Linked DNA regions of Homo sapiens: region 2 is linked to region 1. A link means that fine-mapping ties the variant in region 1 to the expression of a gene that starts in the linked region. Tissue or cell type: whole blood. Region 1 holds a variant in brackets; the other region holds the start of a gene. All regions are shown on one strand. Distances are between the middles of the regions.

Region 1 (5,538 bases):
GTAATCCCAGACAATAGGGAGGCTGAGGCAGGAGAACTGCTTGAACCTGGGAGGCGGAGGTTGCAATGAGCCGAGATTGCGCCATTGTACTCCAGCAAGGGCAACAAGAGCAAAACTCTGTCTCAAAAAAAAAAAACAAAAAACTTAGTGTCTCTCTAAACCCTCTGTCACCACCCTAGATCTAAGCACCATCATCCCTCATACAGACGACAAAAATTATTTGCTACTTGGTCTCTACACATTCACTCTGACCAAGTCTTTCCTTCAATCTCCTCTACTTAACAGCCAGGATAATATTTTAATATCATCCTACATATGCCATTCATCTAGTTTTTTAAAGCCAGGCTAGGTTCTCATTAGCCTTAGGATAAAGACCAAAATACACCTGTAGCTCAAAGAACTGCCTACTCTCTAGCCTCTGCCCACCTCTCCAGCCTCATTCTTCATTCTAGTCTTTCTCCTCTTGCTCTGTCTCTAACTTCCTTTCAAATCCTCAGGTTCACCACTCTTCCCTTTGAACTTTGAACATGAAGTTCCCTCTGCCAGAAACCTTTGTCCCACTATAAGCATCTCCCACTGCCATCCTGAATTACTACTTCCGTTTACCCTCCAAGTCTCTTGAAGTGTCACTTCCTATAGGAAACCTTTCCTGATAACCCTAGACAAGGGGAAAGTACCATGTCAGGCACTCCTACCCAACCCTTTTGGAAATGGCATTCATCACACTTGCAATTATTTATTAAGTATATCCCCTATTAGAATATAAGCTCCATGAAGTCAGGGAAAGCATTTGTTTTCACTGATGTATCCACAGTGCTTAGTACATGGTAGCTGCTCAATCAATATAAATTGTCAGAATTATAGGTTGGGGCCAGATTATAGAGGGCTATAACATCAGTAAACCAAAGAGCAAGGATCATTATCCCTTTGCAAATAAGTAAACCGAAGCAGAAAGAAATGAATAGTTATTTAAGGTCCCAGAGACAGCAGTGATGAGGCCAAATCTAACACTACATTCAGCCCATTTCTCCTCCCTAGGACAATAAAAGAAACTTTGGTGGGTAAGGAAGTATTTCAGAAGAAGAAAATTAGGAATGAGAAGATGGTGCATAAAAGGTCTAAGAGGACAGCTTCTGAATCTGCCTGTTACACTAGTTGCCTCCAGATGGATAGCAGTTAGACTTTCCACACCTAGAGGAGCACTGCTGTTACATAAACAAATATAGCCACTATCACACTCTTCCCGTTAAGAGAAGAGAATAAAATAACAAACTTCTTTCCTGCACAGAGGAGAAGAAACAACCAGGGTGGGTGGGGAACTGTTGTCCTCCAAGTATCTTCAAAAAACCAAATGGGCAGTTTGGCCACCTGGATTGCTACTCAGCAATCCACAGGGAACAGGAAGAAAGAGGGGGGAAAGATCAGCCTTCCCACCACCAGCTGCAGCAAGGATAAGGAAAAAAAAAATGTATTGTATAAGGCAAGCCACTTGAAGACTACTTATTCCTTGGGAATTATGAGAACATTTCATGTAGAGCATTTAAAAACCTTGCTAATCCATAGGCAGGTGCCAGTGAAAGGAAAAGTGGCATGAGCCCAACTGCAGCATTTCATTGTTCACATGCTGCTGGGGCTAAATTATGTCTGTCACAGGAACTACAAACCAGACCAGGGGTCAGGCTCATTGCTGCTCATCCTGCCAAGCACAGACTGCAAGAAAAAGAAAAGGCAAAGAAATTCTCTTCAAAGAGGATTCTGCAAAAATATTCACATAGTCTACATCCACCCAGGAGTTCCTAGTTGAAGTGGAGGACCAGGGAGTGTGTTCTAAGATTGAAGAGAAAGAGATGTGATATGCTGGTGATAAAGGAGGGGTTTTGAAACAGAAAGGAAAAATGTAAACTGCAAATGGAGAGATAGAGAAATAAACAGAATTTCAAGAGATGTGGGTGGGATGGGGTGGGGTGGGGGGAAGAAATGAAAGTACAGGAGAGAAGGGTAGGGTGTCCAGAAGAGCAGAGCGTCATCAACAGAGAGACGCAGAGGCAAAGGCTAACTGTTGATCTTTTCCCAAATCCAAAAGCTGCTCATTGGCATCCCAATAAATCACTCTACTACAAAGCCCATACAATGGACTGTCCTTTGCATTCAGCATCAAGCAGCATTTAATGAAATATCACACAGCTACAACTTTGGAGACCTAAGGATCTGAATTTAAAATGAACAAAATTGGCTTAGCAGCAGAAGACAGCCAGTAAAGAATTTCGCCCATGTCTGACTCAGCTAGGAAAAGGTTTAGCATTCTAGAGTTAAGCAAATACTCTGGCATTTCTCCTTCTTTTGACATTCCAAGAGGGGGTGTGGTTGACCCCAGGCCCATTCATTTCCAAGGGTGTAGATCTCTCAGCCAAGACTGGCCCCATCTGTTGTGGAGCCAGCCAGCTGTTTATCTCAAAGTAACATATCTATTGCCCTAATTATCCCTATAACTCTTACAAGAGCATCATGTAAGTCAGAATGCTTTCTCTCCTGTTAAATGTCAGTTCGTTTAAAAAAACAACAATAACAAAACAACCAAAATCACTCTTCCATGGGCACCTTTCAGTAATGG[C/T]AAATGAAGGTTAACAGCGCTTCTAACTTTCCCTTTCTCTAATGTGTTAAAATGAACCCCTCTTCCCTAATCGATCTCTTCAAACCGTTATTTGTGAGTAGTGACTATGCCTCAGGAAACAGCAGCTCATTATGGTACCATTGTCAGTGGCAAAGAGCCTATGCAATGTAATTTAAAACACACAAGCACAAATCTGTCGGCTCCACTTCCAAACAATCTTGAATCCAGCAGTCGGAGAACGGAAAACATTTAACAAAAACGCTGCTTCCAGCAGCCTGAAAGAACCTTCGCCAGACACGTGAAATGTTTCTGACTGGCACGGAGTGCACCATTAAAGGACACTGTCACCTCAAATCAGCAGAAAAGGCGAGACAAACCACATAGACATACACACATAAAATAAAGCCCTACAAAACTTAAGCACGTTCATCTTAAAAATTAATAACTAGTGCTCGTCCAAGCGACATTCAAATGTTCTAAAGTAGTGCGACCACATTAATTCACTGTCTCCATTTCTCCCCACGCATCACCCCTTCCCACTCAAACCTCAGCTCTCGGGCCGTGTGTGACAGGACTGCAGTCCCCCACCTCTGCCTTCCTCAGATTTTCCAAGAGCACTCCCCAACATCCTTCCCAGCCCAGCCCCCTCTCTCCGCCTCAAAAAGGTTGAGAGGAGTTGCGACTAGGGAATTGGCAGGCACCCGTCCTCTGGCGGGGGAAGGTTGCTGGAGTTGTTCTTTGCAGTGACCCAAATGGCACAGAGCTTTTCCCCTTAGCTGTGCCTGCAAGCCTCTCCCCAATCCCCCCCACCTCCCCACCGCTCACAGCTTCCCAAAAGAAAGCCTTGAGAACTAAGCGGGAGGAATAACTTGGTAGAAGCATTTGAATAAATCACTTCAACTCACCTGGTTTGGGATTTTTCTCCCCACCCCAGGCATAAACAGAAATGGATGTGCGAATGAGTCACGCACGCAAGGGAAGGTCTGCGATGTCCTGAGTCCAAGGGCTGGAGTCAGTCCCTGCCCTGGTGCTGCTGCTACACTTAGCTCAGCTGGAGCGAGCGGCAATCGCAAGCCCAGCAGCAGCAGGGGGTGGAGAGACCGTAGCACAATGAATGCAGTGGGGCTTTTGCAATGACATCATCCCTCTGTCCAAACGTCCCCAATAGCCATGCTCGGGAGCGGTGCTTTCTGGGAACTGTAGTCTTCTTACGTCCTGAAGGGATACCCAGGCAATCCCCGAAACTACAATGCCCAAAATGCTCCAAGTGGGACGCGCCCAGAGTGAAGGAGCAAAGGGGACTCGGCCGCCATGTTAGGAGTACTGGGACGATTCCGCGGAGCCGGGCAGAGGTTTTAGGGGTGCGCAGGAGTCAAGTGGTGGTTCAGTGGGGACGGTGAGGTGGAGGACGATCTGGTCGGATAGCCGCGGGCACGAACCTGGGAACCAGAGGGTGGAGGCCATGCTGGGGACTGATGTAGGGCGGGACCGACTGGAAGCGGCATCCAGAGGCCCAGTGAGCCTCGGTCTCAGCTCCTGAAGGGGTTGCATGGGGCCCTACGCTTCCTTCTCCATTTTTTAGCTAAGAGATTGAGAGAGTCGGTTTACTTTTGGGCTTGGAGTATCATTTAGATCTGTTAACAGTACAGTTGAGAGAGTTGGTGTCTTTTGTTGAGGTGCGAGGACCCGAGGCGGCGACCCTCGCCTTTATTCGGAGAAGCCCACTTCCACCCACAGAGTTGGGGTAGTCCTCCGAAATGCATTTTTGTTTTGCCGTTTGTTTTCCAACCCCCTTTCACTCTCCCCAAAGCTTCAGATTCACTGATTTTTCATACAGGAATGATTAACAAAGGCGTCCGAAGAAATCGTTGTTGGAAGGTGACCAAGGTGGAAAGAGACGTTGCTTTGGCCCTGCAAGTAAGAAGAGAGAGGGAATAGCCTGAAGGAGTAACACTAAATTTAAAATGACACTTTTTTACCAACCAGCGAAAGCAGATGTTCAAAGGGGATATTGGCCAGGTGCGGTCGCTCACGCCTTTAATCCCAGCACTTTGGGGGCAGACGCGGGGAGATAGCGTGATTCTAGGAGTTCAACCCCAGCCTGGGCAACATGCGGAGACCCCGTACCGTCTCTACAAAAACATTAAACAAAAAAATTAGCTGGGCATGGTGGTGTACCCCTGTAGTTGCAGCTACACTAGAGGCTGAGGTGGGAGGATCGCTTGAGCCCGGGATGTTGAGGCTGCAGTGAGCCTCGATCCTACCACTGTGCTCCAGCCTGGGCGACAGCAAGCCCGTGTCTCAGAAAAGGCGGGAGGGGTGGGATATTATTGATGATAGGCCTTCTGACGTCTGGCAATAGATTCCAGAGTAACATCGGTCATGGATAAATTTTTTTTTTAACTAAGTGACTGAAACCAAAGTTAATTGTCTTTTGAGTGATTTTGCACAGTATCTCAAAATGAACTGTACTTTTTTTCTTGTGTCACTGAAACAGTGCTGTGTGTTCTTTTTCAGAGTCTGTCACACTAAGATGAGAAATGTCCTTTCTTCCTGAAGGTGTCTGATGTGTAAAAATATGATATACTTTGTGCTGTTTCCTCCCTTCCCTTTTGCATATTATTCTGAAACAACATTAACTAGTTACTTTGCGTCATTGAAGGTATGCACTTCCCCTCTATGTTAGGAGTGAATAAAATTAAAAATAGATCCTTATAACAAAGAAAGGCAGATAGAATGATTAAAAATGACCAAAACATGTTAGAAACAGTCTCTCAGGTGTATGCAGATGGTAATTACAAAAATACTTTTTCAAAAAATGATCTTCTGTGTCATGTTTCTGGGAACAAGTCAAGATGAATGAGTTTGATTTTTAAGCAGAAGTAGTATGTGTTGGTGTCATCCATGAATACAACAATGAAAAAGGC
Region 2 (6,315 bases), 170 kb before region 1:
TGCAACTCTTCCCTGGGTTTCCAGCCTCCAACCTACCCTGAAGATTTTGGACTTACTAAGCCTCCACAATTGCATGAGCCAATTCCTTAATAAAAATCTCTCTCATAGAGAGAGAAACACACAGACACACACCCTAATACAATAGATATTGCTCCCAATTTTACCACTGAGAAAAATGATGGCCTGACAGGACCCATTCTCCCTCTTCACTACATCACACACTAAAATGTGTGATTTGGGACTCACATTCTAGCCTGAGGGGCTCAGGTGGGAGGTACAAGGTAATAAGCATGCAACATTGTAACCACAAGCCACATATTCCAGAGAGCCCTTTATGACACTGATACCACACATACTACACATGTACCCAGAGCCTCGATGTGCCCAAGTGATGTACTATCCTCTCTCTGGTCTCCTAATTCAGTTATTTCAGGTAAAAGAAATCAAATAGTCCTACCTAACTCAATATTTGAAGACCTTGAAAAAGGAGGAAAAAATAATTAGTAAAGAATTAAAGTAAAAGATAAAAAGAAAAATAAAAAATGATTTGTGACAATTAAATGATGGTAGCCTTTGCTTTGTTTAGGTTCTTTTTGAATAATCATGCATTCACTCTTTCAACAACTATTTATTTTGTGCTTTATACTTTTTTATAGGCTCTTCTAGGTATTGTAGAGTACTAACGAGCTGGAGGGACACATACAATATAGTAAATGTGCAGGATGAAAAAAGACCAACTAAATTTCCTTAAAGAAGTCAAAGATTCGCAGAAGAGGTGAGACATTTCTGCTGGAATAGAATTATGAGTTTAAATAGTGGGGAAGAGGGATGGTATTCCAGACAGAATTTCTGACACAGTAAAAGTCACTTGAGTCTGTTAGGTTGCTAAAAGTGGGAGCTGGGATGGGGAATTATGGCAGAATATAAAGTTGGAACGACCAGCTAGGGTTACATAGTAAGGAACAATGGATTCCCATGCCAAGGTGTTTGGCCTTTATCCTGCAATCAGAGTTATGAAGAATTTCTAAGCAGGGGAGGGATAAGACCATGGGCTAAGCCTTCTTAGAGACCACTCCATAAAACCACATCCTTTATATACATAGAAGGACAGCTGGGTCCAGCTTGGTCACTGGGGCAGATATAACCACAGGTAAATCATTATAAAGTTTAATAAAAATTAAACCTTGAATAAAAAACTAAGCCTTACAGTTTTAATAATAAGTTTATTACTAGAAGGCATCAAAGTATTTCATGTGCTCTAACTTAAAAACTTAAAGTTGAGTTCACACATAGTCCTAACTAAAAATCAATGGTTCAGAAATTGGCAACTAGTATAATTATAATTATGCAATAAATACATATGTAAAAGTTTTCCTCAGAAAATGAAATAAAACTCAATTGGAATAGACAGAAGAAAAATTATTATTATGGTAATAAATACATACGTGGAATCTGTATCCTAAAATATAAATTAAATATAAGCCAGTGGACAAAATGTGGCTGAGTAAAGCTGGACTTTGCATATCATCAAAAATGGAAAAAGAAACAGTGTTGAATTATATTTCTAAGGAGTGTAGTGGCCAAGAAAAGAATCTACAATAAAGGAACATAAATTAGGAACTAAGGTACTAACAACTCATTTGTTCCCTTCCTCTTTTCTGCTGATAGTTCTCTTTTTCATCAATCCCAATGGGATTTTAGAGATCTCCCAATCCAATAGTCCTCCCCACCGTTTTACTTTAGCAGTTGAGTTCTGCAAATAGTTGTATATAAAATCCCAGCATATAAAACAGGTAAAAGCTGAAAGAGATCCAAGAGAGGGTACTAGAGCACCTAATTTGGCCTCCACTTCAGCCTTCATCCACTTTCCCTCTGAAACAGCTCCCCAAAGAGCCCTTAATTTTCCTCAGTAAAGTGTAAAACACATTGGTCCTTGTCCCAACCCTCCTAATTTACAAATGAGGGAATTATGCCCTAGAGAATTAATTTAAGGGAGTTGCCTGAGAAAAAAGATTATTTCCTAGTACCCCTGCTAAAATTAAAATGTTTTCTCTTCCTCATAAACTTGAACTCAAATGTCTGGGTTAAAAATTGTTTCTTGGCTGGGGACACAGTGGCACACGCCTGCAATCCCAGCCCTTTGGGAGGCCAAGACAGGGGCATCGCTTGAGCCCAGGAGTTCAAGACCAGCCTAGGCAAGATGACAAAATCCCATCTCTATTTTTAAAAATAAAAAAATTTTTAAATTATTTCTAAGTTATTCTGGAAGTCTATGACATCCCTCTACCACAAATTCCCATTCCAAATTCACATAAGGGCTGGGCTCAGTGGCTCACACCTGTAATCCCAACACTTTGGGAGGCTGATGCAGAAGGATTATTGAGCCCACAAGTTCAAGACTAGCCTGGGCAACATAGTGAGCCTTGTCTCTGCACAATTAACAACAACAAAATTTCACATAGGTCTATAACCACATATTATATGAGTGCCTACTTGAAGCCAGATACTCTGCTAAGAGTACGTTATCTGCTCTCATTCAACCATCACCACAAACCCCAAGAGATCAAGGAACTAGGCTCACAGAAGTACTGTAACCTGCCCAAGGTCACAGAGCTAGCAGGGTGGAATCCGGTTCTATCTGACTCCTAAAGCCAAGCTTCAGACCCTTGCACTCTTTCTAATCCCAACCTTTTCCAAATCTTTTCCTATTTTTACACAGGCTTTCAGAAATGCTGAACTGTAAGGATTACTTGTCATTTCACAGAGGATGTACTTTTCCATCAAGACCTGTGGGGGAATGCCTCATGCTGCAGCCAAGCACAAAGGCATCAAGCCCAAAAACCTCTAATTTCACGTTACAGACCATAGAAAGGCTAATCCCCACCCCCACCACAAACTCCTACAACTCCTTTTACAAGCATAGGCTACATACATTCAGTCTTATGGGGAATAGGGACTGTCAACAATTCTTAATAATAGGGCTACAAAATCAGCTCTGAGCTGACCCCTTCTGAGAGGCTGGCTTTTAGGATGGATAACTATCCAATATTTTCTAATAGGTAAAGATATTAAAATTTGTATTTAGGGCTGCCTTGGGGCAAAGGATGACTATCACCGCAGACTAGGTACCAGAGCTGGCATTTAATAATTTGAATTTGAGGGAAGGTCAAGGGAGTTCGGATTGGGGCACCCTCTGGGAGCAGAGGGAGTTGAAGTGACTGTCGTGTCCAATTACAGAAAAGCCTGAATCAAGAGTATGCAGCCAAAACTACTACCAAATTATTGGTAATGGGAGGAGAAAATTTAAACAGAACTGGGATTTGGGACCACCTTCTGGAAGATGTTAGCCAAAAACCGAACAGATCCTAGGCATCAAGGGGTGTGAATTTCGAGGTAGGCTCCGTTGCCCGGGCTCTGAGGGTCAGGGTTCCCGGCGGTTGGGCCTGGGACGGCGAAGCCCCCGCTCCCCCTTACCTTCTGTTGGAAGTAGAGAACCGAATAGTTCTTGGCTACAGCCGGGAGGGATGTGGGGTTGGTTGGCAAGTGTAGGCTGCCGAGGGCCCTTAAGGCCGGCCGGAGGGCTATGGTGGCCCAGGGCGCCAGAAAAGACAGAAGCAGGAGCAGGAGGGCTCGGCGGCCCATGGCTCAGGCTGGAGACTGCAGTGCGGGTGGGAGGGCGAAAAGGAGGCCAGCAGAAGCGCACAGGCTAAGCCCTGCCCAGCCTGCAGCTCCGCCCGCCGCAAAACAGCTCCTCCCAGGGGAAACCCAAAGCCAGCCAGCTCCTCAGAGACGCCGCCCAAGCCAGGTCACCACAGCCACTCCGCCCCCATCCCCGAGGACACCGCCTCCACTCCACTTTCCTCTCGTGCCATCTGCTCCTTAGCACTCACCTTCATTGCGGTCACACCCCAAGTCTGCCCTTATCATGCTAGGGCCTCTTCCTAACTCATCGCTGTAGCCCATGCTTTATCTATAGCGCCCCCGAAGCCCACCTGTCCTTCAGGTCACCCAATATCCCTACCATTATCATCACCACCAAACCCTGCCCTGGCCACCGCAATTCCATTGCGACACCTCCTGCCTTCCGCAAATCCTACGTAACGGCAATAACAGCTACCATGACAATTTATTGAAGGTTCACTACAGGCCAGTGTATCACGAGGCAGGGAGGCACACGCATCATCTCCTCTAACTAAATCGTCACAGCAATCTTGTGCGTCGTATATGATTGTTATTCCCATCTACAGATGTGGAAACTGAGGCTCAGAGAGGTGCGGGAACTTGCACTAGATCACTCAGCAGTGAGCGGAGCACGTCGTCGCAGACCGCTGGGTCCAGGTCCAAAGACTGTGCTCCTTGCACCCACCTCCATCTGGAGCCTAACCACTCCCTATGATACTCCGTTCTTGGGTCACCCCAAAACTGTGTTGCTCGCACAACCCATCCATTACACAGGTCGCCCCGGGTCCACATCGCCCCTAAATCCCGCCAGGTCCCGGTCCCTTCTTTCAAATAACGCCCCCTTTCTTCTCCGGCACCCGAAAACCCACTCCGCGCTCCACCCCCCTCCTGCCTCCTGCCACCGCCCCCTTCCTCCCTCCGCCCGTGGGTAGTGCTAGCCCCTAGGACAGCGCCGGGTCTGGCTTCCAAAGCTCCCTCAACCCTCTTCATCCAGCTTCCATTCCCTCTTTCAGTCACCCCGCCAGACCCCAGGGCGCTGCGGCTCACTCCACACTTTCCCGGGAACCCTACGCCCAGGAGGCTCAGCGAAGCTCCAAAACCAATTTTACGGACTGTACTACTGATCCACCTGTCGGGGAGAAAGACTCTACCCGCAGTTTGACGAAAATGGTCGTTTCCAGATGCTTGTAGGATTTCCTCGCTAAGCTCCACCCTCTGCGGCGCCTTCTTCTGATTGGCTCTGAGTAATCAGAGCCAAAGCGTTACTTCCGGCGGAAAAGGACGCGGGAGATTCGATTGGAAGGCTGCCGGCGTGCTACTGAGTTCGGCCGGTCCGAGTCACTGTGCGTCGCCTGGGCCCGTTCCTGGTCTTCTCCCCCAGGTGAGCTGGGTAAAGGGGTTCTCGGGAAGCCGAAGAGCCGGAGACTCCTAAGGAGGCTCTTAACTTCATTATGAATGAGACCCACCCAGAGCCCGGCGCTTGTTTTTTCACAAGTGGTTCTCTGTAAACGGGCAGCCATGAGGGTAACAGAATATAAACGTCAGTTATTTTATTTTAGACTCAGTGCTTTTGCAATCACCTAACGAACGTTTATTGAACACTTACAGTGCCATCGAGCTAGACTCGGAGTGAGCTTTTAGAATCGGAAATAGAGAGGAAAAGGCGCGACTCTTGCTTCTGTAATGTGCAAATACGTATTCAGTGGGCCACTGTGCAGAGTAGTACGTGCTGAAAGGGGATCTTCCAAAATGCTATGATGGCTTAGAAGGAACATATTTTAACTGAGCCATGTGCTTAAACCAGAGCTTGAAAGTTTTCTTCCTTTTCACATCCAGCCAGTCCCTACCAGCCTCTTGAATATCTCAGATCTGTTCACTTCTCTCCGTTTTTTACTGACATTATTTTGGTTCGACCCTATGACTGCTACATAGCTGTGACAGTAACCCCCCCCTCCCCCGCCGCCCCAGCTGGTTCTCCTGCTTTCAATCTTGCTACCTTCCAGTCCAGTCTCCACATTGCTGGGCTGATAAAGTTCATATTTGACCGAGGCACTCCCCATTGAAAACCTTTCAGTCGCTCCTATTTGCCCTCAGGTTTAAGCCCAAACTCTTTAACATGACTTACAGACTCTTTCCTATCTGACTTTTGCCTGGCTCTTCAGCCCTAGTGGTTTTCCACCGCTCCAGCCATATAGAATGTCTTTTGTGTTCCTGAAGTGCACTATCCTCCTTCTCACCCCAAACCGTCTTCTGACCCTGTCCCTGACCTGGCTAATTCTTAGTCAGTTTGCAAAGCCTTTTAAATCAGAAACCCTTTCCTGACCCCACAGGACTGGATCACAGAGCACCAAGTAATTATTTGTTTATTCTGCAGATAGTTAAATGCTTCTTTCGTCTGTGCCAAGAATTGCTAGGTACTGAGATCCAATGATGAACAAGGTAGATTCCTGTTCTAATGGAACTTACCTTTTATGGATGGAATTAAGGAGAATTTACAAGGAAACTATGTGAATTAGACTGGTCTAAGAAGACCTTTCCAAGGAGTTGATACTGATGCCTAAAAGATGAGCGTGATCCAACCATGCAAAAGAGGGAAAGAAAAACATTCTAAACAGAGTGAACAGGTTGTGCAAA

The links. PIP is the estimated chance that this variant, and not a neighbour inherited with it, causes the effect.
Region 2: it holds the start of PRCP, and the variant in region 1 is fine-mapped to the expression of PRCP in whole blood (INTERVAL, PIP above 0.99).

Annotation. Positions count from the first base shown.
Region 1 is chr11:83,068,175-83,073,712 of GRCh38, forward strand. RAB30 (RAB30, member RAS oncogene family) reads right to left here and starts at 3,723. Exons shown (of 5, transcript NM_001286060.2): 1 at 3,517-3,723. RAB30-DT (RAB30 divergent transcript) reads left to right here and starts at 3,892. Exons shown (of 3, transcript NR_038903.1): 1 at 3,892-3,972; 2 at 4,449-4,630; 3 at 5,129-5,538. LINC02951 (long intergenic non-protein coding RNA 2951) reads right to left here. Exons shown (of 3, transcript NR_186233.1): 3 at 4,228-4,522. RefSeq lists enhancers at 1,613-1,662, 1,683-1,912, 3,676-4,165. The variant C/T (reference allele first, on the strand shown) is at 2,612.
Region 2 is chr11:82,896,761-82,903,075 of GRCh38, forward strand. It overlaps PRCP (prolylcarboxypeptidase), which reads right to left and starts at 3,670. Exons shown (of 9, transcript NM_005040.4): 1 at 3,475-3,670. The coding sequence starts at 3,642. DDIAS (DNA damage induced apoptosis suppressor) reads left to right here and starts at 4,976. Exons shown (of 6, transcript NM_145018.4): 1 at 4,976-5,062. LOC124902602 reads right to left here and starts at 5,295. Exons shown (of 2, transcript XM_047427953.1): 1 at 5,288-5,295; 2 at 4,154-4,921. The coding sequence starts at 5,295. The coding sequence ends at 4,264. RefSeq lists enhancers at 3,396-3,445, 3,566-3,625, 3,776-3,875, 4,156-4,205 and silencers at 4,416-4,465, 4,516-4,605.